7 linked regions of the Homo sapiens genome follow. The protein of the gene in region 5 interacts with the protein of the main gene of each other region in a pairwise test. Each region holds a gene or a part of one and is shown on either strand. Other genes may lie near its edges. The genes, in order: SLC38A7, STX7, SCAMP4, GDE1, SLC10A1, MFSD6 and SACM1L.

Region 1 (3,500 bases), on a different chromosome or scaffold from region 5:
GTGCCCCTGCTGCTAGCAGCTCCCCACCTCTAGCTCACAGGAGCCAGACCCCTAACTGGGTAGACTGCGGGGAAAGCCCCATTCCTGACCCTCAGTTTCCTCTTCTGTAAAATGGGCCACCAGCACTCTGTTTACCACAGGGACTAGAGACGGTGAATGTCGAGAGCTTAGCACTTTGCTTTACATCACATGGAAACTGATATTGTTTTTTCCTTAAAAGGAACTGTCTGGGGCATCCAAAGGGGAGGGTGTCCATGTGAAAGCTCAGGAAAGGATCTGGATAGAGATTCTTTTGTTTTTTGTTTTTTTGAGACAGGGTCTGGCTCTCTCACCCAGGCTGGAGTGCAGTGGTGCAATCTTGGCTCACTGCAGCCTTGAACTCCTGGGCTCCAGCCATCCTTCTGCCTCAGCCTCCCAAGTGGCTGAGTAGCTGGGACCACAGGTGCATCCCACCACACCTGGCTATTTATTTTATTTTGTGTAGAGATGGGGTCTCACTAGGTTGCCCAGGTGGTCTTGAACTCCCAGGCTCAAGCGATCCTTCTGCCTCAGCCTCCCAAAGTGCTGGGTTTAGAGACGTGAGCCACCGTGCCATGCCATGGATAGAGATTCTTACAGGACTCACGGAATGTTCTGGTGACCCCAGGACAAAGGGCGCTTCTGACACCTGGCCTGGGATATGTAGGGACCCATCCTAGGCACCGACTCTTTTCTACAGGCTTCAGTTTCTCCTTCTACAGGATGGGGTCCACACAAGGCCAAAGGACCATGTTGGAAGCGCTCACAGGGGCTAGGAGGGGCCCTGGGGAGTGGAAGGGGGCTCACCGCCCACAGAAGTGCAGGATAGGGTAGGAGGTGAGCACGCTCAGGATGATGAAGGCTCGGGCAACGGCCACGGCCATGTCCTCCGAGGGATAGGACAGGAGCACGTCAGGATCCACAGCAGCTCCAAAGGTCAGGAAGCCACAGATGCCTGTGGGCAGGGACAACTGGGTCAGGGCAACCCTGGGAGGGTAGTGGGGTGGACTGTCCACTCCTCCTAGGAGCAACATCAGCCTGGAGGCTGCAGCAGCAGCTCTGGACACTTAGACGGAGGCTCAGAGTGGGAGATGGGGCTCCGATCAGATGCCTCCCTCCCTGACTTCTCAGATCCCCCATCGCTGGAAGCCCTCCAGCCCCCAGCTTTCTGAGCCTGAACTTGCCCAGCACATTCCCACCTCAGTGCCTTGGCACTGACTGTTCTGTCTGGCAGACCTTCAGATGCCATCTCCTTATCATTTGGGTCTCAGTTTAGATGTCCTTCCTCAGAGAATGCTTCCTGCCAGTCCATCTACAATGACCCCCACCCCAGGCACTCTCTCACATCACGCTGTCTTATTTTTCTTTTCTTTTTTGAGACAGAGTCTTGCCCTGTTACCCAGACTAGAGCGCAGTAGTGTGATCATGGCTCACTGCAGCCTTGACCTCCTCGGCTCAAGCGATTCTCCCACCTGAGCCTCCCAGGTAGCTAGGACTACAGGCAGATGCCACCACACCCAGCTAATTTTCTTGTAGAGATGGGGTCTTGCTACGTTTCCCAGTCTGGTCTTGAACTCCTGGGCTCAAGTAATCCTCCTACCTCACCCTCCCAGAGTGTGAGCCACTACACCCAGCCTTCTTCTTTTTTATTTTTTTGAGATGGAGTTTCACTCTTGTTGCCCAGGCTGGCACGCGGTGGCACGATCTCGGCTCAGTGCAGCCTCCACTTCCCAGGTTCAAGTGATTCTCCTGCCTCAGCCTCCTGAGTAGCTGGGATTACACCATGCCCGGCTAATTTTTTTTTTTTTTTTTTTTTTTTTTTTTGAGATGGAGTCGCGCTCTGTCATGCCCAGGCTGGAGTACAATGGCATGATCTTGGTCTCCTGGGTTCTCATGCCTCAGCCTCCTAAGCAGCTGGGATTACAGTCACCTGCCGCCACACCTGGCTAATTTTTTTTTTTTTTTGAGATGGAGTTTTGCTCTTTCACCCAGGCTGGAATGCAGTGGTGCGATTTCAGCTTACTGCCACCTCTGCCTTCTGGTTTTAAGTGATTCTCCTGCCACAGACTCCCGAGTAGCTGGGATTACAGGCGCCCGCCACCAAGCCTGACTAATTTTTGTATTTTTAGTAGAAATGAGGTTTCACTATGTTGGCCAGGCTGGTCTCGAACTCCTGACCTCGTCATCCGCCTGCCTCGGGAAGTGCTGGGATTACAGGCGTGAGCCACCACGCCCAGCCCTAATTTTTTTATTTTTAGTAAGATGGGGTTTCGCCATGTTGGTTGGGCTGGTCTCGAACTCCTGACCTCATGTGATCTGCCTGCCTGGGCCTCCCAAAGTGCTGGGATCACAGGCGTGAGCCCCAGTGCCTGGCCGTTTTTTTTTTTTTTTTTAAAGACAGGATCTTGCTCTGTCACTCAGGCTGGAGTGAAGTGGTACAATCATAGTTCCACTGTAGTCTTGAATTCTTAGACTCAAGTTCCTCCTGACTTGGCCTCCCAAGTCACTGGGACTACAGGCACATGCCACCATGCCTGGCTAATTTTTTTTTTTTGAAGACAGAGTCTCACTTTCTCCCCCAGGCTGGAGTGCAGCGGCGCGATCTTGGCTCACTGCAACCTCGGCCTCCCAGGTTCAAGTGATTCTCATGCCTTAGCCTCCCGAGTAGCTGGGATTACAGGCACCACCACCACGCCCGGCTAATTTTTGTAATTTTGATAGAGACAGGGTTTTGCCATGTTGGCCAGGCTGGTCTCGAACTCCTGGCCTCAAGTGATTCACCCACCTTGGCCTCTCAAAGTCCTGGGATTACAGGCGTGAGCCACCATGCCTGGCGGACGCCCAGCTAATTCTTTAATTTTTGTAGAGATGAGTCTCACTATGTTGCCGAGGCTGGTCTTGAACTCCTGGCCTCAAGCGGTTCTCCCATCTCAGCTTTTCAAAGTGTTGGGATTACAGGCATGATCCACTGGGCCTGTCCCCTAACACTCATTTCTCTCTTTTTTAGAGACAGGGTCTCACTCTGTTGCCCAGTTTGGAGTGTAATGGCATGATCATGGGTCTCTACAGCCTTGATCTCATAGGCTCAAGCGATCCTCCCACCTCAGCCTCCCAAGTAGCTGGGTCCACAGGTGCATGTTACCATAACCTGGCTAATTTTTAAATTTTTTGTAGAGATGGAGTTTCACCATGTTGCCCAGCCTGTCTTGAACTCCTGGGCTCCAGAGAACCTCCCACCTTGGCCTCCCATAGCTGAGATTATAGGTGTGAGCCACTGTGACTGGCCTCATCGCTTTCTAATTTTTTTTTAACTGTACTATCACACTGGTCTTTAAGTAAACAATAATACAAATAAAAATAATAACAATAATAATAGTAATTAATTTTTACAGGCTTATTTTCTGTCTCCCCAGCCAGGACATGAGCCCCAGGAGAATAGGGATTTGGCTGTTTGCCTCTCTTGTTCCTGGCTGTGTATTCAG
Region 2 (3,500 bases), on a different chromosome or scaffold from region 5:
AGATACTAATAAGTTTTTGTGCGTGTAACATTTGACACCAGGCTTTTAAGTAAAACACCCTAAGATGGAACTTACTGTGTAGTGGAAAGAGTTAGACTCACTAGACATTGATTAGCTGACTGACATAGAGCGTTTCTTATCAGTCAACAAAACTATTTCCAGAGAGGCTTGAAATAAAACAGTTGACTTTATGTAGATTATGGTTAATATCTTTTGCAGATTTTCTAAGAAATCTTTCCCTATCAGAGGTCCCCAAAACATTCCTTTATCATTTTCCTTCTAAATCTTTTATACATGCTTAAGAAATATGCACATGCTCTAAATTGGGGGAACATGATCCTTTATGTATTAATTGAATCAACTTTGGTTACCATGTTGTTCTATTTACTTTTTTGCTGCTCGAGCTAAAAATTGAGTGACTTCAAATACAACATAATAGTTTTTTTTTCCGTTTTGCCCTCTACATTTTTACTTTAATAACTTTGTTTAGAACTGTTATACCTACTTCAGTTGAAATTTTTATTATTTTTGAGAGTCTCCTTATCCTTATTAATGCTTTTCACTTTAATATTTGTAAGGCTAATACTGATACAGCTATCCTAACCAGGTATATTTGCTTGTTTTATTTTCCCTAATTCTACTTTTTGTCTTTCTCTGTCCTTGTACTGTCTTTTGTAAACTGTATATATTGAACAAGGTAGACTTTTTTTTTTATTAATCTGGTGAGATAGGCAATTTATATTTATTGTAACCATTTATTATATACTATGCCATTTCTTTGCTTTTTCTATGCTTTTTCTTCCTTCTTGCATTTTTGTGGTCTATCAAAGTTGGGATTTCTAAAGTGTTTTTCCCTTATTTCAGAATGTTTCCTCTCTACTGGTTTGAAAGTTATATTGTATTGCTATTCTTTAAAGGTTATCTGAAAATTTTCTGTTAAGTACTTAGATTAACAACATCTAAAGTCATTCATTATCTTAACTTCCATCCTAAAGAGTATCAGGATCTTGGAGCACTCACACTAACTTCTAAGTGCTCCCGGACACTTTCCCCACATATACATTTCCTGAGTTATGTAAAATGTTGCTAGTATTTTAATTACGCTCTTTTTTACTCCACAGAGTAAATACTTCTTAATATAGACAGTATTTATTTACATTTCCCATGATTACTGATTTTTTAGCTCACCATACCTTCTTGCATCTCAGACTTTCCTCCTAGTCATTTTGCTGTACTCTAAAATTCATCTTTATTCTTAAGTGAAAGTCCCTTGTTTGTAAATTCTCATTTTGAGAAAAAAGTGTTTTTAATATACCCTTGATTTTGAAAGATAATTTCACTGGGCACTCATTCTATTGAGTTATTCTCTCAGTACCTTAATGATGTTATTCCACTGTCTTTTGCCTTCCAGTTTTGGCACTGAAAAGTCTACTGTTGGCCAGGTGCAGTGGCTCATGCCTCTAATCCCAGCATTTTGGGAGGCCAAGGCAGGTAGATCACCTGAAGTCAGGAGTTCGAGAACAGCCTGGCCAACATGGCAAAATCACGTCTTTACTAAAAATACAAAAAAATTAGCCAGGTTGTGGTGGCGCACACCTGTACTCCCAGCTACTCGGGAGGCTGAGGCAGGAGAATCAATTGAACCCGGGAAATGGAGGTTGCAGTGAGCAGAAATCACACCACTGCACTCCATCATGGGTGACAGAGCAAGACTCTGTCTCAAAAAAAAAAAAAAAAAAAAAAGGTCTGTCAATTCGTTATTCCTTTAAAAGTGGATAAGTTATTCTGGCTGCTTTTAAGATATCTTTGCCTTTATTGTTCTGAAGTTTGAGTATAATGAATATACATTGGCTTCCTTTTCCTGGTTGATATACATTTTGCTTCTTGTATATGTGGATCCACTTTTTTTTTTTTTAGACAGGGTACAGTGGCACCATCATAGCTCACTGCAGCCTTGAACTCCTGGGCTCGTGTGATCCTCCCTCCTCAGCCTCTTGAGTAGCTGGGACCACAGGTGTGTGCCACCATGCCTGGCTAATTTTTGTATTTTTTGTACAGATGGAGTTTCACCATGTTGCTCAGGCTGGTCTTAAACTCTTGGGCTCAAGTGATCCTCCCACTTGAGCCTCCCAAGTAGCTGGGACTACTGGTTCATGTCACCACATCTGGCTAATTCTTAATTTTTTTTGTAGAGATGGAGTGGGGGCTCTTGCTTCATTTCCCAGGTTGATCTCAAACTCCTGGCTTCAAGTGATCCTTCTGCTTTGGCCTCCCAAAATGCTGTGATTACAGGCATAAGCCACCATACCAGGTCCCAGGCTTTTCTTAGCTCTGGAAATTTGTCAGCAATTACCTCAATTTTTTTCTATTTTTTACTTCTTAGACTCCAATCAGCACATATTAAACCTTCCCATTCTATCCTTCAGGTCTCATAATCTCTAATTCTTATTTTCTATCCCTTTACCTGTTTTTGCTGCAATATGTTGTTTCCTCAGTTAAAACTTGATAGTCAACAATTCCTTTAGTTGTGGTGAATCTGCTCTTAAACCATTCATTATGTTATATATTTCAATAATTAAATTTCATACCTAAGTTGTCTTTGGTTCTTTTTAATATCTGCCTTTTAACACATCTCTCATTTCATGTTCGTTTTAATTCATACATTATTTAAACATATAACTGTTATTCTACTTCTGCTAATTGCAATACCTGAATTCCTTGAATATCTAAATCTACTGTTTCTCAATGCAAATGGTGTGTTTCCTTGCATGTTTGATTAATCTAGAAGCATTAATTAGGGAGGCTTTCCTTCGGAGGGGATTTTCATCCACTTCTTAGAGTAACCACCAGAGTCCACTGACTTAGGACTACTTTAATGCTTTAAAGCATTCCTGGTTTTATGAAGGAATCTTAGGTTCACTTTCTTTACTTTGCCTGGAGTCCATGGCTTAAGTCTCAGAGGCACAGTTTTCCTGTTTCTCAACTACTTTAATTTTAGCCCACTCTCATTGGTAATAGCCTTTAGTGATTATCTTTCTTTCTAATGAGCCAGGAAATGAACTAATATTATGTGTGTTGTATTTTATCCAAGAACTAACTGTATTTTAGCAGGAGGATCCTTGAGTATACCTAGTCAACCATATGGCAGGAAGCAGAAATCATCTACTTCGTAGTTGATTTTGGTAATTTGCATTTTTCATATAAATTATTCATTTTCTGTTTTGTGATATATTGGCATAAAGTTGTTTATAGTGTCTTATTATTTTAAAATCTATGTTTGGTTATTTATCTGTACTTTCATTCCTAAATTTTTTATGTCTTCTGTTTTTTTCCAAATCGGTTTCACCAAGTTATGTGTACTTTATTTATTTAAAGAGACCAACTTTTGTTTAAATTGATCCTCTCAAAAAAAAAAAAATTGATACTCTCTTCTATAGTATAGGTTTATACTCCAGGGGTCAACCAACATTTTCGGTAAAGGGCCAGAAATTTTAAAATTG
Region 3 (3,500 bases), on a different chromosome or scaffold from region 5:
TGCTAACCCCTGGTGTGCACAGAGTTTAAACAGCCATTGGTTTTTAAAAACGAAGATATAATTCACCTACCAGAAGACAGATCATTTTCTTTTTTTTTTATTTTATTTTTTTACTTCTGAGACGGAGTCTCGCTGTCGCCCAGGCTGGAGTACAGTGGCATGATCTCAGCTCACTGCAACCTCCGCCTCCCGGGTTCAAGCTATTCTCATGCCTCAGCCTCCAGAGTAACTGGGATTACAGGCATGCGCCACCACGCCCGACTAATTTTTGTGTATTTTTAGTAGAGATGGGATTTCACCACGTCGTTCAGGCTGGTCTCGAACTCCTAACCTCACGTGATCCACCCGCTTCAACCTGGTGGTGGGATTACAGGTGTGAGTCACTGCGCCCAGCCAAGACAGGTCATTTTCAAAAGCACAATTCATGGCTAGGTACCAGCGGCTCACGCCTGTAATCCCAGCACTATGGGAGGCCGAGGTGGGGGGATCACTTGAGCCCAGGAGTTTAAGACCAGCCTAGGCAACATAACAACACCCCATTTCTACTAAATATCAAAAAATTAGCTGGGCGTGGTGGCACACACCGGTGGTTTCAGCTACTCGAGAAGCTGAAACAGGAGGAGCACTTGAGGCCGGAAATTCAAGGCTGCAGTGAGCTACAATCGTGCCACTGTACCCCAGCCTGGCTGACAGAGCAAGATGCCATCTCAAAAAAAAAATGAAAACCCGGGCACGGTGGCTCACGCCTGTAATCCTAGCACTTTGGGAGGCCGAGGCAGGCGGATCACAAGGTCAGGAGATCAAGACCATCCTGGCTAACACGGTGAAACCCCGTCTCTACTAAAAATACAAAGAATTGGCCAGGCCTGGTGGCACGCACCTGTAGTCCCAGCTACTAGGGAGGCTGAGGCTTGCAGGAGAACCCAGAAGGTTGAACCTGGGAGGCGCAGGTTACATTGAGCCGAGATCGCGCCACTGCACTCCAGCCTGGTAACAGCGCGAGACTGTCAAAAAACAACAAAAAAGCCAGGCGTGGTGGCTTAAGCCTGTAATCCCAGCACTTTGGGAGGCTGAGGCGGGCAGATCATGAGGCCACGAGATCGAGACCAGCCTGACCAACATGGTGAAACCCCATCTCTACTAAAAATACAAAAATTAGCTGGGCATGGTGCCACGCACCTGTAATCCCAGCTACTCAGGAAGCTGAGGCAAGAGAATTGCTTGAACCTGGGAGGCAGAGGTTGCAGTGAGCCGAGATCGTGCCACTGCACTCCAGCCTGGTGACAGAGCGAGACTCTGTCTCAAAAAAAAAAAAAAAAAAAAGACACCTCAAAAACCAAAAACTATCAAGTGTCCTATTCAGTGGCTCTTAGGACACTTGGAGTTGTGCAACCATCACCACTATAAAATTCCAGAACATTCCATCACCCCTAAGAGAAAACTTGTCTCACCACCCTACAACACACACAGCAACCCAGGCAACCACTGATGTGATCTCTGCATCTCCAGAAGCCAGAGCCTGGAAGCAGAAGCGGGGACAGGCGGCGCCTGGCTTCCAGACAGAAGGGCCATGTGGCCAGGAACTGAGCAGGACCCTTGGTCCCCCGGCCGCAAGCTGCTGAATTCCGCCAACGCCTGCGTGAGTTGCAAGCAGATGCCACCCCCGTTGAGCCTCCAGATGACAACACAGCCCTGGCTGACACCTGGGTTCCAGCCCGGTGAGACCCCGCAGAGAGGAGCCAGCCATGTCACATTCAGGCCCCGACCCACAGAACCGGGAGCTGGCGGGTGTTGTATTAAGCCCACAGATGCACGGAGTCTGCTATGCAGTGACAGAAAGCAAGCATGCCAAGTGTGGGGGACACGGGGCCCCCTCCCAGAACAGCACACAGCCTGGCACTGACACGGAACACCCACCTCCAGTGGTTTCTGTAAACACTCGCCCCCTAGTCGGCCAAGGGCTAGGAAAAGAGAGACCTCAGAAGACAAGCCACGAAACGTAAGCCCCGGAGCGCAGCCCCTCCCCTGGTGGGCCCGACTTCCCATCCCTTGACCACATTCCTGCAGCTGTGGTGGGCCCTGGCTGTCGGGTGGAGCAGGCAGCCACTGGGGTGTCCCTGCTTACTCAGTCACAGAGGAGGCCCTGGCTGGAGTGGGGCTGCGGGAAGAGCTGGGATCACTCCCGGGGCTCCTGCTAACATCCCTGACTGCCGGGCAGTGTGCCAAGGCGGCTCTCGGGTGAGAACCTCCCGGCCTGACATCACCAGCACTGTTACCATCCCTGCCGCTGGCACAGGTGAGGACATCCCTGCTGCTGGCACAGGTGAAGACATCCCAGCCACTGGCACAGGTGAGGACGGGAGGCAGTAAAGCCGTTACCATCCCTGCTGCTGGCACAGGTGAGGACAGGAGATAGTAGAGCCATTACCATCCCTGCTGCTGGCACAGGTGGACATGAGGCAGTAGGGCCACTCCACTGGAGAGGAAGGGCTGGTGGGGCCCCCAGCTCTCGGGATCCGCCCATTAGAAGGGAGCCTGCCCTAGGCGGGCAGACAGCACAGCAGAGAGGCAGGCGTGGGGACAGCCAGCCTGCAGGGACTGCTCACAGGGCCCTGGGGGACAGCGCCTCTGGCTCCCACATCTCTGGCATCCACCCCACCTGAACACCCCCAAACCACAGTCTCAGCTGGCCAGCCTTCCCCCACCTGCATCTGCCCCCACAGACTCGCACCGCAGGCCTGAGGTTGGATTACAGGCGTAAGCCACCATGCCCAGCCCACATTTTTTTTTTTTTCAGACAGAGTCTCACTCTGTTGCCCAGGCTGGAGTGCAGTGGCATGATCTCAGCTCACTGCAACCTCCACTTCCCAGGTTCAAGCGATTCTCCTGCCTCAGCCCCCCTAGTAGCTGGGAATACAGGCACATGCCACCACGCCCGGCTAATTTTTGTATTTTCAGTAGAGACGGGGTTCCACCATGTTGGCCAGGCTGGTCTTGGAACTCCTGACCTCAGGTGATCCACCTGCCTCAGCCTCCCAAAGTGCTGGGATTACAGGTGTGAGCCACCGTGCCCAGCCCACATTGCTTAAAAGTATAAATTAGTTGGGCACGGTGGTGTGCACATGTAGTCCCAGCTACTCAGGAGACCAAGGCGAGAGGATCACTTAAGCACAGGAGTTTGAGACCAACGTGGGCAAGATAGAGAGACCCTGTTCCTTTTTTCAAATAAATAAATAATAATAAAATCCTAAAAACCTTACTACCTGTGTGCTCACAGTTATTTCTAGCAGACAGTACTGCCTCAGATGGTGCTGGGGCTAAGCCGCAGATGATCTTAAAATGACTCCAGCCGGGTGATCCTGAACTGCCAGCCTGGACTACACATCCCCGCTGGTATGGACGGCTCCTCCCGCAGACAGGGATGTGTCTCTGGATCATTTCGCAGCCGCGCAGCTGTGGGTGCTACTCCTCGACATGCACTGCCTGGTCCACGCCTCAGC
Region 4 (3,500 bases), on a different chromosome or scaffold from region 5:
TTGCTATTTGTGTCTGGAGGAGGGTGGGGTGCAGTCTTGGGGACCAAGCCCTCAACCTATGATCTGACACTATCTCCAGGTAGATAGTGTCAAAATTGAGTTGGAGGATACCCAGCTGGTGTCCACTACTTATTGGTGGGGAAAAACCCCCACATTTTTGGTCACAGACGTCGGGGTTGATTGTTGTGAGAGCAGAGGGAAAATGTGATGTGTTTTTCCAAAATAGTCGTACATCTGTATCACATGGGAAAAGGAAAAGATTTAAATAAAGCAGAAAAATCTCCACCCATAAAGGACGTTATTGATAAATTTGACTATATTACCTTTAAAGATGTGTTTAAAAGGACATAATAAATAACAATGGCTAACATTTATTGAAATCTTAACTATTCACTAGCACAGTGCTCTGTGTTGTTTATGGGTACTTAAATAAAAACCGGTAAGGGAGTGACATGAGAATGATATACACCAACTTTAAGATGGTAATTACCTCTGGAGAGGAAAGGAGGAGAATGAAAGGGAGAATTTCAGCTGTATCTGTAGTGTTGATAGTAAAACTGAAGCGGATAAGAGTGCAACTTCTACTGCATCCTAGCTTGTGCAGCCCTGGGCAAGTTTCCTACTCTTTCTTTGTCTCAGTTTTCTTATCTGTTAAATGAGAATATTAATAGTACCTGCTTCAGGGTTGTGAGGATCAAATAAGTTAATACATTTAAAGCACTTAGAAGAGTGCCTGGCAAGTAGAAAAGGCTCAATAAATAATAGTTTTTGTTTTTGTTTTTGTTTTAGTACAGAAAGAGACTGAGGAAATTAGGTCAAAATATTCACATATGTTAAATCTTTTTTACTGTAGATGTTTGCAATAGACCATGACTTAAAATATTTTTTAAAAAATTAAAAATCTTGATCATAGCTGGGCACAGTGGCTCACACCTGTAATCCCAGCACTTTGGGAGACTGAGGCAGGAGGATTGCTTGATCTCAGGAGTTCGAGACCAGCCTGGACAACATGGTGAAACCCCATCTCTACAAAAAATACAAAAATTAGCTGGGCATGGTGGCACGTGCCAGTAGTCCCGGCTACTTGGGAGACTGAGGTGGGAGGATGGCTTGAACCCAGGAGGCGGAGGTTTTAGTGAGCCGAGATCATGCCACTGCACTCTAGCCTGAACAACAGAGCCAGATCCTGTCTCCAAAAAAAAAAAAAAAGAAAGAAATCTTCATCGTAATGAGCATTTCACATCTTTATTGTGATGAGGAAGCCAAGGAAGCAAACATTAAATAGTGTGTCTCCAGAGGAGCATGGCTCGTGTAATTTAAGGTTCAAATTCTCTTTTTAGATAAATTCTAATCTACCTCATCAAGCTTAACAACTTATGGGCCAACAGCCAGTGCTGCTTACATAAACAAAATGTGATATGTCCTAGAAGCAGGCGTGGTGTCTTTGTGGTAGAGGGTGGAATTAAACCAACAAAAACCTGACTCATTTATGCCAAAGTAGTGAAATATCTGACTAATCAACAACCGTAGGGTGATCATCAGAACTGCTGTACCAACAAATAGTGTAGGTAAACAGTGGAATTGTCTAAGTATTCATAAGCCATTGATGACCCATATAGTTAAACATCCAGAGAAAACATAAGTTCCTGAAGTCTCCTAGTCTTCCACTGTGAAAGTAAGAAGAGTGGGAAAATTAAAGTTTTTAAGGAATCCATCAGTTAGGAATTGAAGTAAGGTTATATACACAGAAAACAGAAACAGATCAGGATTGCTGTTTGGTGGGGGAAGTGGAAGGAAAATGAATCAAAAAGGACAGCTGTCTTAGGAGCCCTGCTGGTCTTTTGGGTGGTTAGATGCAAAATAATGTTTGTGGCCATTTGACAGTAATATTCTTGATGTTTTTGTTAAGGCAGCTAAGAATGGAGCAACAGGCGTGGAGTTGGACATTGAGTTTACTTCTGACGGGATTCCTGTCTTAATGCACGATAACACAGTAGATAGGACGACTGATGGGACTGGGCGATTGTGTGATTTGACATTTGAACAAATTAGGAAGCTGAATCCTGCAGCAAACCACAGACTCAGGTAAGTAGTTTATTGTCACTTAAACAGATCTTTTAGCTTTTATTGGAAATGACAGACACTGGTGCCTTCTAATTACATCTGCCCCAGGAGAGTTGTCTTGTTTTGTTTTGAACTGTACGTAGGTCTTGTAAGTAATGAGCAAGTGCCAGGAACAACAGAAATTTGGCATTATGTTTTTAATCTTTCCCACTGAGGCTAAATTTGGCTTCAGAATTATTGTCAAGATAATACTGTCTAGTCATAGAATCATGAGGCTGAAAGTCATTGCTTGGCAATCTTCTTGCCTTCAGGTGTACCAAGAAGCAAATTATACATTCATTAAAAGCTTCAAGTAACATTATAATATCACATTTTAACTTAACCCATTTAATTCTTCTGATCCTCATAACAAACTTCTGAGGAATCACAGAATTGTAGGAATAGAGAGTATCCTAGAAATCATCTAGAATAGCACTTTGCAGTAGAACTTTCTGCAATGATGGAAATATTTTATATCTGCACTGTGTAATATGGTAGGTACTTGTGGCTATTGAGCACTTGATATGTGGCTAGTGACACGAGGAAGTGAATTTTTAATTTAAATGTAAATTTAAACTGAAATAGCCATGTGTGGCTACCATATAGGATACTACAGATCTAGATCAATCTTGCCTTTAGATATAATCCCAGAAAAGTTAAATTATTTACTCAAGGGCAAATAACTAGTTCATAAAGAAGCCAAAACTAGAATCTATCCCAAGTTTTAGTCCAAATCATGCTGTTTTTAGCTGCCCCCAATGTCTTTCAACCCTGTAAGAGCAAAAGTTCTTTCAGTGTCTAATTTAATTCCTTCCTGGTAGAGTGTAAACGTAGCTTCCAAAGTATATACACTAGAGCTAATCTTACAAGATGTTCTGCAAAAACAGGGTTCAAGTAAGATCAAACAGTGTATTCTGAATACTTCTGTTGTGGATAAACAGTCCACATCAGCTGATTCTTACTTGTAACTTAGCTTTTCTCAAACTTACATGATCACAGAACCTACATCCTCTTCCCCACTTACAGCGGTAAACACCCTTGGAATTGGTATGCTGAGTAATATACTGTACTTTGGAATGTGGTTATTTAAATCCCTCTCTGCTTGTCATCTTTGCAGTACTGAAAAGGGTGTGCTCACTGGTTATTCATGTAATATCAATTATCCAGACAATGATCGATTCTCTTGGAAAATTAAGTATTTGACCCAACAGTTAAGTTATACTTTTTCCTAAAAGATGATCCAGACCTGTTTTCCTAGGATCTGAAAAACATTAGTCTGCCGAAGGAAGTCATACTGTAGGCAGGAAAGAATATTGGTAACACTTGAGAATTATGAGTCCAAGTTGCTAGAATTGTTCTTGAGTGTCATCAGATACTGTATTGCTCTGCTTATGCAA
Region 5 (3,500 bases):
GATGAGAAGGCCATTTGAGTTGTCTAGTGAGAGGTAAGGATAGAGAGGAATGAATGGATTCCAGCAACAGAAGGTGGAATCGACAGTCATTGATTAGATGGGTGTGAGTGGTGAGGGAGAAGGGAACATTGAGAATGACTTCCAGTTTCTGGTTGGGGCAACTGGGCACACACACAGTGCCACCGACTGAGATAACCACATGGGGAGGAGATGACTTTAACATATATTGAGTTTTAAATGTCTGAGGTATATTCAGATAGAAAGACCTGGTAGATAATAAATGGATTCTGGAGTGAGGATAGAGTTGACATCTGATGATGCTGTTCTGGAAGTCTCGGTTTGCAGATGGTAATTGCAGACCTGAGAGGGACCAGATCCTGTGCTGGGAGAGGTCTGGTGAGAAAGGCAGAAAGCTTGGTCTGAATGCAGAGAAGTGCCTTTGACCAGAGGAACTCATAAGGGAGTCTGAAGGTCATGAGAGGTAGGAGGAAAGCAGCAGAGCTTAGAGTCACTAAAGCTGACAGAGAAGGCTTTTGAGGAGGCAGTGGTCAATTATGTCCAATGCTGCTAGAAGGTCAAGGAAGGATTGAGAAATGTCCATTGGATTTGGCAAAGAAAGTGGAGCAGGTGGTCATCAAGATGCTGGGTGGATGGGAGACCAAGGAGAGAAGAGAGGGATTCAAATAATGGAAACGAATTGCTGAGGGCCTGGTCACTCATGAGAGAGCTCTGGCGGTGGCATGGGGGAAATGGAAGGTGTTTGAGAGGAAGCGATTGACAGAGAGAGAGAGGAGTGAGGGGGACTACTCCTAAAACCTGGCTAGGAAGGAGAGCAAAGGGAGATATTAGGTGGAATGGGAGGTGGATTCCACAAAAAATCCCAGTGAGAGACACTTTTTGTTTTGTTTTTTGAAGATAGAAGATATGTGAGTTCGTATCAAAGCTGATTGTGAAGAACCAATACAGAGATATTTTAGAAATGAGAGAGAGGGGAGGCTGCTGGGCCAGGGGCATAATCAATAAAAGGAGGTCTCTTGAGTACAAGGGTAGAGAGAATGATTGCAATCCAGGGCTGAGGTGGGGTGACTGGCCACAGAAAGGAGGAGGGATGATTCCTCCATGTCCTCCAGCAGGCGGGAAGGGGAGCTGTGGCCATGGCACTGGGACAGGACAAGGGCAAAAACTACTCTTGAGACAATGGTAGTGTGAAAATAAAACCCCCCTGAAAACTGGACTCTTGACTTCTTTGTTCCAGGCCCAAAGCTGCTGCCAAACTTTGGGGTTCTCAGCAGCACGCCTTGCAGACCAGGCCAGAGGCATTGATCCAGGGGCAGAGATGGTACAGGAGGTCAGGAGGTCAAGTCCTTCCTGAGGACCAGGATGACCTCCTGGCCCTGGGGGATGAATAGTGAGCCAAGGGGGAGGCTGGCAGGGACCAAACTCCAAGGTTGAAAATATTGGTGGAGAGACCATAGCTGCACTCTAGGAGTTCTGCACACAAAGCAGTGGCATGATGCCCTGTCTGTGACCACAGTGCTTCTCAAAACCTTTGTGGCCTTAATTCACTCCACTTCCCACCCCATCCCTCTCTTGAAATGCTGGGAATGGGTACACTACCTGTCTCCTCTAGCTTCTTGCCACATCAGCCAAATTTGCCCTTAGTGCCTGCTGAACTCTATTCAGGCTTCTCCCCAGGTTTACCTAAATGCCTCAAGCCCTTCCTTTTTAATAAGGCTCTTTGACCACTCCAGCCCTCACTGTTCCCATCTCCTTGCCTTCTGCAAATACTTGCGTGTACACTGGAATTGGATCTTGTTTCTCTCGTGTGTTACTTCATTTTCTTTCTTTTCTTTTTTTTTTTTTTTTCGTTTTAGAGATGGAGTCTTGCTCTGTGGCCCAGGCGGGAGTGCAGTGGCGCGATCTCGGCTCACTGCAACCCCTGCCCTCCCTGGTTCAAGCGATTCTGCTGCCTCAGCCTCCTGAGTAGCTGGGATTGCAGGCACTCGCTACCATGCCCGGCTAATTTTTTTTTTTTTTTTGTATTTTTAATGGAGACGGGGTTTCGTCATGTTGGTCAGGCTGGTCTCAAACTTCTGACCTCAAGTGATCCACCCGCCTCAACTTCCCAAAGTGTTGGGATTATAAGCGTGAGCCACCACGCCAGCCTCATGTGTTACTTCACTTTCTGCAAATATCAAACTCTGGTGACAGTGAATCCTTAGAGTGCATAGCATAAAACTTAGCATCTAGTAGGAGCATATGTATGTTTATTATTAATATAATGATTATATCTTATAGTTGTATATGGTGTTTTTACTCTTTTGCCCTAATTTGTCAAGCCTCCCAGGTTCTTACCTTGATGACATAGCGCATGTATTGTGGCCGTTTGGATTTGAGGACGATCCCTATGGTGCAAGGAATGAGAACCAGGACCAGTGATATCACGATGCCTTTATAGGGCACCTTGTCCTTCAGGTCCCCATCATAGATCCCCCTGGAGTAGATGTACAGGAGGAGAGGCATCATGCCAAGGGCACAGAAGGTGGAGCAGGTGGTCATCACAATGCTGGTGGGAGACATGGGAAGAGGGGAGAGAGAGAGAGCCCATAAATACAGACTATTTTGTTGAGTGCCTGCTAAGTGCCACTGTGCTAAGTGCTTGACATATGTGGCTTCAGTTCCTTTTCCCCATAACATTAGGCAGTAAGCATACTATCTTCTTTTCGCTGACAAGGAAGCTGGGGACTAGAAGAGTTGTGTCCTGCTCAAAGTCGCACAAGGTAGTAAGTGGCCAAGGCAGCATTTGAACTTAGGGTGGTTCAACTGCTTCAATCCCTGTGTGCTTCATTGTGGAAGGAGCCATTCTGATCTCCTTCTCTGTAATGGAACCCTTTTCGCATTGAGCACCTCCCCCATGCCAAGCCCATTTTGTAGAAAGCCAACTGTGTGATTCCATTACTCTGGTCATTAGCCCATTGGACCATGGAATGGCACCTGACCCACAGTTACTAAATGTCTGGTTTAGAGCCTAGGGAATGGCTTCTTGTAGTGACTTTGTCCAACGGAGACAATAACAATTAGCTATATCAGCACATTTTACCTCGTGGGGAGTCTGAGTGTGAGACACAGTGACAGGACACTTGGTCTTTGGGGATGGGTGGCATGGGAGTGATGCTCAGGCAGAAGTCAAAAACCCTACTAGAAAAATCAATAAACAGATACCATGATTAAAAGGACTGTAAAAGAAATAGTGAAGCAGTAAGAAACAGAATAATTGAAGGGCCATAATGGTGGGGTAGTAGAGAAGGCAGTAATAGATACCCATGTTGAGTAAGTGACAAGATAACCTGGTCAGATTTGCTTTGCATCTTGGATAGTATTCCAGTCCCCAACTCTGGTGTTCTCATGTTCTTTACTTTCTGGTTCCTCTTGATATTATTTAAAATAAATTATGACACTCAGAGCCTGAATAATATGTCCTTCCAGCTCTAATATGTATC
Region 6 (3,500 bases), on a different chromosome or scaffold from region 5:
ATTAATCCTAACATACCAGAAAAAAAGCGCCACATCAAAAATTTTATGTGGCTTCTGTGAAAATGAGGATGAGTACACAAAGTAATGAAAATATTGCTACTCAAGCAGCAGATATTAAAATCATCCTTTCTCCTGTTTAGTCTTCTTGCTTTAAGGTATTAAAATCCTCCATATGCATCTCCCACCACAATATCTGGTTCTTGACTGAGCAGAGTAATGATGTGAGTTTATTATCTTGATAAATTAATAAATAGGATCATGCATGGACTAGCATGCATATGGTTATCAGTAAAGAACCAGATTTGGTTAAAATTTCACAAAGATTTTATGTTAGCTTACAAAGTGAGATTAATTAACAGTTCAACAAATTTTCTGAAAGGGGAATTACTCAAATGACCCTTATTTTTAAATCTTTCCCCTTTATTTTTATGTGTCCTCTGAAGCTACTCCAGACAAAGCTGACGTGACTTATCAAATAAAAGGGAGTGATTATCATGAGATGGGGGAACTGAGCCTATTTCTTTGGCTAAATTGTTTATAGAAGTTACACTCATTTTCCAAAGTCGGGATACACCTGTACAATTATCCACACTTTTATCAACATGCTTTAACTTTACTCAGGAAAGATCACTCCTCTGGGGACAAGAAAAATCACACTTTTAGACTTATTTTTCAGGTGAGGCCACCTGCATAACCATAATTCCACTGAGTTAGGTGTCCTATCAGACCCATACAGTGGCTCAGATTAATTAATTCAACAAATATTTATTGTGGTCCTATAATATAATGCCCCCACTAGAATTTTGGAATTACAGAGACAACCATCAATACTGAAATTTAAAACAAATATACAATGAAAGAATGGATTAATTTATTTTATTTCTTTCAAGAAGTGAAAGAATCATAACCTCTGAAGTTTTCCTGAACTCCATAAGGCAGAATATTCTCTCTATGGGACCTTGTATACACCCTCTTTAACTCAGTGCTCACAGAGTACTGAAATTGTTTGCATGTCTATTTCCCCCACCAGACTTTCAATAAATCTTGTTGAATGAAAAGTGAGTAATTAAAACTGAGCCCAGTTAAGGTATCTTGAGTGACAGGTAATATTGCTAGCCCAGCAAAGGAACTGTACCTGTAAAGGCTGTATCTCAGAAGCACGGTTGTCTCTTGTGAGTTGCATCATCTCTTTAATTTGGTAGAGTGCATAGACAAAGGTCACCCAGGGAGAAGAGCTGACTCCCCAGGCTGGTTTGTTCACATCTTCCTGTTCTTCCTGGTGCTTAGTTTTCTTGGGTGGAAGTCTGGGCTCAATGCGTGGCATGACATCTTCTGTCTGTTGCTGTACCAAGTCGATGGTTGCTATAGGAACGGGACTGGAGGGAACAGGAATTCTTTCTGCCAACATTGTCTTGTCTGGAGAGAAAAGAATGTTTAAACTATTTTTTCAGCATTTTCTACATATTTGAACAAAGGTAAAAATAAATAAATAAACCAAGAATCCCATATACCCATTCCAGAGTGCTTGATAATATTAATAAATTGCTGGTTACCAATGACTTCATTACTTGGTGTAAGTACTGAATCAATGAACATGATGTTTATCTTTGGGTCTCTTTATAGGCCTTAATAGACATTAGCATATATATTTAAGAAATATATTTTTCATTTAACTTAGAACATCAGTGGGGCATAGGTTATAATGAGTGTTGCCTTAGGCCCATTTACAGGATTATGATTAAAAAGACGTCAAAACAGGAAAAGCCACGTGATAGTTATTTTTTAAAAAATGTTTTATTCCCACAGGTTTTTGGGGAACAGGTGGTATTTGGTTACGTAAGTTCTCTAATGGTGATTTGTGAGATTTTGGTGCAACCATCACCCAAGCAGTATACAATGAACCCAATTTGTAGTCTTGTATCCCTCACCCCTTTCCCACCCTTTCCCCTGAGTCCCCAAAGTCCATCATATCATTCTTATGCCTTTGCATCCTCATAGCCTAGCTCCCACTTATGAGTGAGAATATACGATGTTTGGTTTTCCATTCTTGAGTTGCTTCACTTAGAATATGGTCTCCAGTTCCATCCAGGTTGCTGTGAATGCCATTAATTCATTCCTTTTTATGGCTGAGTAGTATTCCATTGTGTATGTATGTATATGTGTGTGTGTGTATATACACACACACATACACACACATATACACATATACATATATATACACACATATACATACATACACACACTACAGTTTCTTTATCCACTCATTGATTGATGGGCATTTGGGCTGGTTCCACATTTTTGCAATTGTGATGCTATAAACATGCATGTACAAGTATCTTTTTCATATAATGACTTCTTTTCCTCTGGGTAGATACCCAGTAGTGGGATTGCTGGATCAAATGGTAGTTCTACTTTTAGTTCTTAAGAAATCTCCACACTGTTTTCCATAGTGTTTGTACAGCTTACATTCCTACCAGCAGTGTAGAAGTGTTTCCTTTTCACTACATCCACACCAACATCAATTATTTTTTGATTATTTGATAATGGCCATTCTTGTGGGAGTAAGGTGGTATCACATTGTGGTTTTGATTTGCATTTCCCTGATCACTAGTGATGTTGACCATTGTTTCATGTTTGTTGGCCATTTGTGTATCTTTGCTTGAGAATTGTTTATGCATGTCCTTAGTCCACTCTTTGGTGTTTTTTTTTTTCTTGCTAATTTGTTTGAGTTCGTCATAGATTCTGGATATTAGTCCTTTGTCGGATATATAGACTGAAGATTTTCTCCCACTCTGTGGGTTGTCTGTTTACTCTGCTGACTGTTCCTTTTGCTGTGCAAAAGCTCTTTAGTTTAATTAAGTCCCATCTATTTATCTTTGTTTTTGTTGCATTTGCTTTTGGGTTCTTGGTCACGAAATCTCTGCCTAAGCCAATGTCTAGAAGGGTTTTTCTGATGTTATCTTCTAGAATTTTAAGTTTCAGGTCTTAGATTTAAGTCCTTGATCCATCTTGAGTTGATTTTTTTATACGGTGAGAAATGAGGATCCAGTTTCATTCTCCTACATGTGGCTTGCCAATTATCCCAGCACCATTTGTTGAATAGAGTATCCTTTCCCCCTTTATGTTTCTGTTTGCTTTGTCAAATATCAGTTGGCTGTATTTGGCTTTATTTATGGGTTTTCTATTCTGTTTCATTGGTCCATGGGCCAGTTTTTATACCAGTACCATGCTGTTTTGGTGACTATGGCCTTATAGTATAGTTTGAAATCAGGTAGTGTGATGCCTCCAGATTTGTTCTTTTTGCTTAGTCTCACTTTGGCTATGCAGGCTCTTTTTTGGCTCCATATGAAATTTAGGATTGTTTTTTCTAGTTCTGTGAAGAATGATGGTGGTATTTGATGGGAATTGCATTGAATTTGTAGATTGCTTTTAGCAGTATGGTCATTTTCACAATATTGATTCTACCCATCCATGAGCATGGGATATGTTTCCATTTGTGT
Region 7 (3,500 bases), on a different chromosome or scaffold from region 5:
CCAGGACTGTGAACTACTGATGTGGAATGCTATTTTAAAAGCATGGCTTGCCTGGTAAAGTCAGTCTTCAAGGCACCAGTTCCCGCATATTGCTTGGCACAAGCATTTGCGTTGTCAGCCCAGGCTGTAGAAAAAAGTAAAAACAGCTGATAATTATTAAGATGACAAACAAAGTTCTAAATCCAGAATATTAATTTATTTCAAAATCTGACCAACTTTGTCTATATTAAAGAAATGACCTACCATTTTTGTAAATCTTCTCAAATTCATCTTGTTCTTCAAGCTTTTGTCCCACATGCAAAACTCCTAGTCTCTGGAATAAAAAACCACACCCAGATTTATGTGTAATAGATTTTAGCAGACATGGTTTAGGAAGAAAAAGCAGTCCCCAAATTTTATCTCATGGTGCCTGGTTGCTGGATGCAGGCCAGAAATGTCTGTTGTCTATAGGGGGCCCCAGCTCACAGCAGCCCTCTCCTGCCCAGGGCAGACTGCAAAGCCTCTCCTGAGGGCACCTTTGCCTTGCAGCCCCCGCACTCCCTTGAGGGATAGCAGCAGGACTATACTCAGGGAGAGGGTCAGAAGAGAGAGTGAAAGCTGCTATAGGATTCCAGCCGCTACTTCCTCCCTCCCTCTTACCCCCAGTCTTCTACTGCCTCTACCCCTTGAGACCCCCTCACATGCATCATCCCTCAACTTCTTCACCCCTGAGTCACCCCAGCCTTACCCTCTGTCCCAGGGACCTTTAAGAATCTGATGAGTGCCACCTAATCTACCTCCCCAAAAGTGCACACACACAGACATAGAATATCCCAGGGTTGCTGGGCCCCCTGAATCCCCTCTATAGACTCCCCTTTGGAGACCACCAACCACAGATGACAAGTCCCTGCCTTGTCTCAGACCATCACTTCTGAGAACCACCATCTTCATTGCTTACCTCAGATGACACCTCATCTCCACCTCAGAAGGAGTCATTCCCACCCTCAGACACAGCACAGGAGCCACCTTGGTGACCTTTAGCTGGGTAAGAACTCTGCCTTCACTGGCAGACTTGGAGAGGCACAAGTAGACAGCCCCTACACTAGTAGGCAAAGCTGCTGGAGAGGCTCCTGCCCCCACTCTCTGCAGGTTGGTTAGGTTTCATAATACTATATATAGCATGTAAAATTGTAAAATATGGATTGCAGAGCCTAGTCAAGTAAGTTTTGGTTAATCAGCCATGGAACCAAACCATTCCTAATATTGTTTCTATTAAAAACTACACTTAGAAGACCTTCCAACAGACGAGGACATAGCACAATACAAACTACAGACTACTCCAACAGGGACAGCACTCCTCTGGCAGGTGTGACTTTAAGATTCAAGAACAATTCATTCTGAAGGGGGTATTTTACCTCCATAATTTCTTTCTCGGTATCATACAATTGTCAGAAATAAAGCTGAATGCTTACTAATTACCTGAACAGGAAACCATGTGGTATGCATTTTGTCTGCCCCTCACAACAAATGCCAATGTGATTTAAAAATTGGGGCTCTACATCTTTTTCATTCCAAATATACACAGAAGAAAAAAACCATTTTTCTCAACAGCATAGTCTAGTGGTAAAGCAAAGCTGTGTCAGAAACTTTTTACTTTGGAGTCAATATTCCTTGCTAGTAATAAGAGAGAGATAAATAGAAACAATCTTGAGGTGCTACTTTTGTATTAACGAAATAGAAAAAAAAGAGGCTAGACACAGTGGCTCAAGCCTGTAATCCCAGCACTTTGGGAGCTGAGGCAGGTAGACTGCTTGAGCCCAGGGGTTTGAGACCAACCTGGGCAACATGGTGAAATCCTGTCTCTACAAAAAAAAATACAAAAATTAGCCAGGTGTGGTGGCACATGCCTGTAGCCCCAGCTTTGTGGGAGGCTGAGTTAGTAGGATGGCTTGAGCCCAGGAGGCAGAGGTTGCAGCAAGCCGAGACTGCACCACTGCACTCCAGCCTGGGCAACAGAGCCAGACACTTTCTCAAGGAAAAACAAAAAAAAAATTAAAATATCAAATGCTGGGAAGAGTTCAATGAAATGGATTTACTGATTCATTATTGGTGTCAGTGTAAACTGGTATGACGCTCTTGGAAAATAATATATTTATTCTCTTTAACCCAGTAATTCCACTTCTAGGAATTAACATGAAGGAAATAATTCAAGTTAATAATAACATATACAGATATATTCTCTACGGTGTTATTTATAAACCAAAAATGTAGCAATCTGAATGGCTTAGTAAATTACGGCACAACAATACAACCACCAGAAACTGTGATTACATAAATGCTAAGGGAAAATGGCAAAAGTGAAAACTGTGCATACACAGACTGACCCTAGTTATGGAAAATGTGACATCCATGGGCAAGACACAAAAATAAAAAGAGCTGGGTTAGGGTGTGGGCAATGTGAATATTTTTTGTTACTGGGTTTTAAAGATGTTTAATTTTTTGCTGTGTTGTTTTTCAATTAAAAAAAAAAAAAGCATTCGCACCTGAAGTTGGGCCTGAAGTGAACGACGAGCTAACAAACTCTGGATCACATTGGTTCTATCTAGACAATCCATGCAATTGCTTCGGAACACGCCTTCCTGGTTTGCCACCACCTGGCCAGCAGAGTCCACTAGAAAATAACTAAAACATATTTGTATAAACACTCTCATACCAAAGTAGGTCAGATTTACTAAGGACTTAACTCTTATAACATGGGTCTCATTTCAGTGACATTATTAAAAACTGTAAATTAAAAGGTCAGACAGGAATGTGTGGTCAGGCATATGTGATTATCCTAGACCAAAAAGAAGTCTAAATGGCTGAGGCAAGACAGCCCTCCATCCAAAAAATGGCTGAAGATTAGAGATCATCTCACCCCAAAGATGTGAAAAAGTAAAGTTAAGAGTATTAAAAAGGTTGCTGTGCAAATCAATCATGTTTCCCAAAGCCAGATGAGGGTTTCCTCTAACATAATTATTCCAACTATATCCCTAGATGTCAGGGCTTTATGATTCATATACTATCTTTAGAATCCTCTGGGTTGCTTGTGAAAAAAGATTCCTGGCCTTGAGATCAACTGAATCAGAATCTCTGAGGCAAGGATTGAATATTTTGCATTAAAAATACTTTTAGCTGGGCGTGGTGGTGCGTGCCTGTAATCCCAGCTACTTGGGAGGCTGAGGTGGAAGGATTACTTGAGCTCAGAAGTTCGAGACCAGCCTGGACAACATAACGAGTCCCTGCCTCTAAAAGAACAAAAACGTAGCCAGGCATGGTGGTGCCTACCTGTAGTCAGAAGGCTAAAGTGGGAGGATCACTTGAGCTCAAGGGTTAAAGGTTGCAGTGAACTATGATCACACCACTGCACTCCAGCCTGGGTGACAGAGCGATATCCTGTATCTAAATTAAAAAAAATTTTTTTTAAATACTTAAAAATATTTTTTTTCTTTTTCTTTTTTTTTTGAGATGGAATCTCCCTC

The links.
Region 1: the proteins of SLC10A1 (region 5) and SLC38A7 interact in binary tests that used the Homo sapiens proteins (3 or more experiments, as listed by UniProt).
Region 2: the proteins of SLC10A1 (region 5) and STX7 interact in binary tests that used the Homo sapiens proteins (3 or more experiments, as listed by UniProt).
Region 3: the proteins of SLC10A1 (region 5) and SCAMP4 interact in binary tests that used the Homo sapiens proteins (3 or more experiments, as listed by UniProt).
Region 4: the proteins of SLC10A1 (region 5) and GDE1 interact in binary tests that used the Homo sapiens proteins (3 or more experiments, as listed by UniProt).
Region 6: the proteins of SLC10A1 (region 5) and MFSD6 interact in binary tests that used the Homo sapiens proteins (3 or more experiments, as listed by UniProt).
Region 7: the proteins of SLC10A1 (region 5) and SACM1L interact in binary tests that used the Homo sapiens proteins (3 or more experiments, as listed by UniProt).

The regions. Positions count from the first base shown.
Region 1 is NC_000016.10:58,671,271-58,674,770, forward strand, and holds part of SLC38A7 (sodium-coupled neutral amino acid transporter 7), read right to left. Parts: intron 974-3,500; coding exon 826-973; intron 1-825. UniProt on the Homo sapiens protein: Symporter that selectively cotransports sodium ions and amino acids, such as L-glutamine and L-asparagine from the lysosome into the cytoplasm and may participates in mTORC1 activation. The transport activity requires an acidic lysosomal lumen.
Region 2 is NC_000006.12:132,447,117-132,450,616, forward strand, and holds part of STX7 (syntaxin-7), read right to left. Parts: 3' UTR 1-3,500. UniProt on the Homo sapiens protein: May be involved in protein trafficking from the plasma membrane to the early endosome (EE) as well as in homotypic fusion of endocytic organelles. Mediates the endocytic trafficking from early endosomes to late endosomes and lysosomes.
Region 3 is NC_000019.10:1,908,399-1,911,898, reverse strand, and holds part of SCAMP4 (secretory carrier-associated membrane protein 4), read right to left. Parts: intron 10-3,500; exon of another isoform or gene 1-9. UniProt on the Homo sapiens protein: Probably involved in membrane protein trafficking.
Region 4 is NC_000016.10:19,515,599-19,519,098, reverse strand, and holds part of GDE1 (glycerophosphodiester phosphodiesterase 1), read left to right. Parts: intron 1-1,909; coding exon 1,910-2,085; intron 2,086-3,500. UniProt on the Homo sapiens protein: Hydrolyzes the phosphodiester bond of glycerophosphodiesters such as glycerophosphoinositol (GroPIns) and glycerophosphoethanolamine (GroPEth), to yield a glycerol phosphate and an alcohol.
Region 5 is NC_000014.9:69,783,742-69,787,241, forward strand, and holds part of SLC10A1 (hepatic sodium/bile acid cotransporter), read right to left. Parts: intron 2,567-3,500; coding exon 2,356-2,566; intron 1-2,355. UniProt on the Homo sapiens protein: As a major transporter of conjugated bile salts from plasma into the hepatocyte, it plays a key role in the enterohepatic circulation of bile salts necessary for the solubilization and absorption of dietary fat and fat-soluble vitamins.
Region 6 is NC_000002.12:190,495,355-190,498,854, reverse strand, and holds part of MFSD6 (major facilitator superfamily domain-containing protein 6), read right to left. Parts: intron 1,417-3,500; coding exon 1,136-1,416; intron 1-1,135.
Region 7 is NC_000003.12:45,734,396-45,737,895, reverse strand, and holds part of SACM1L (phosphatidylinositol-3-phosphatase SAC1), read right to left. Parts: intron 2,662-3,500; coding exon 2,523-2,661; intron 314-2,522; coding exon 244-313; intron 125-243; coding exon 52-124; intron 1-51.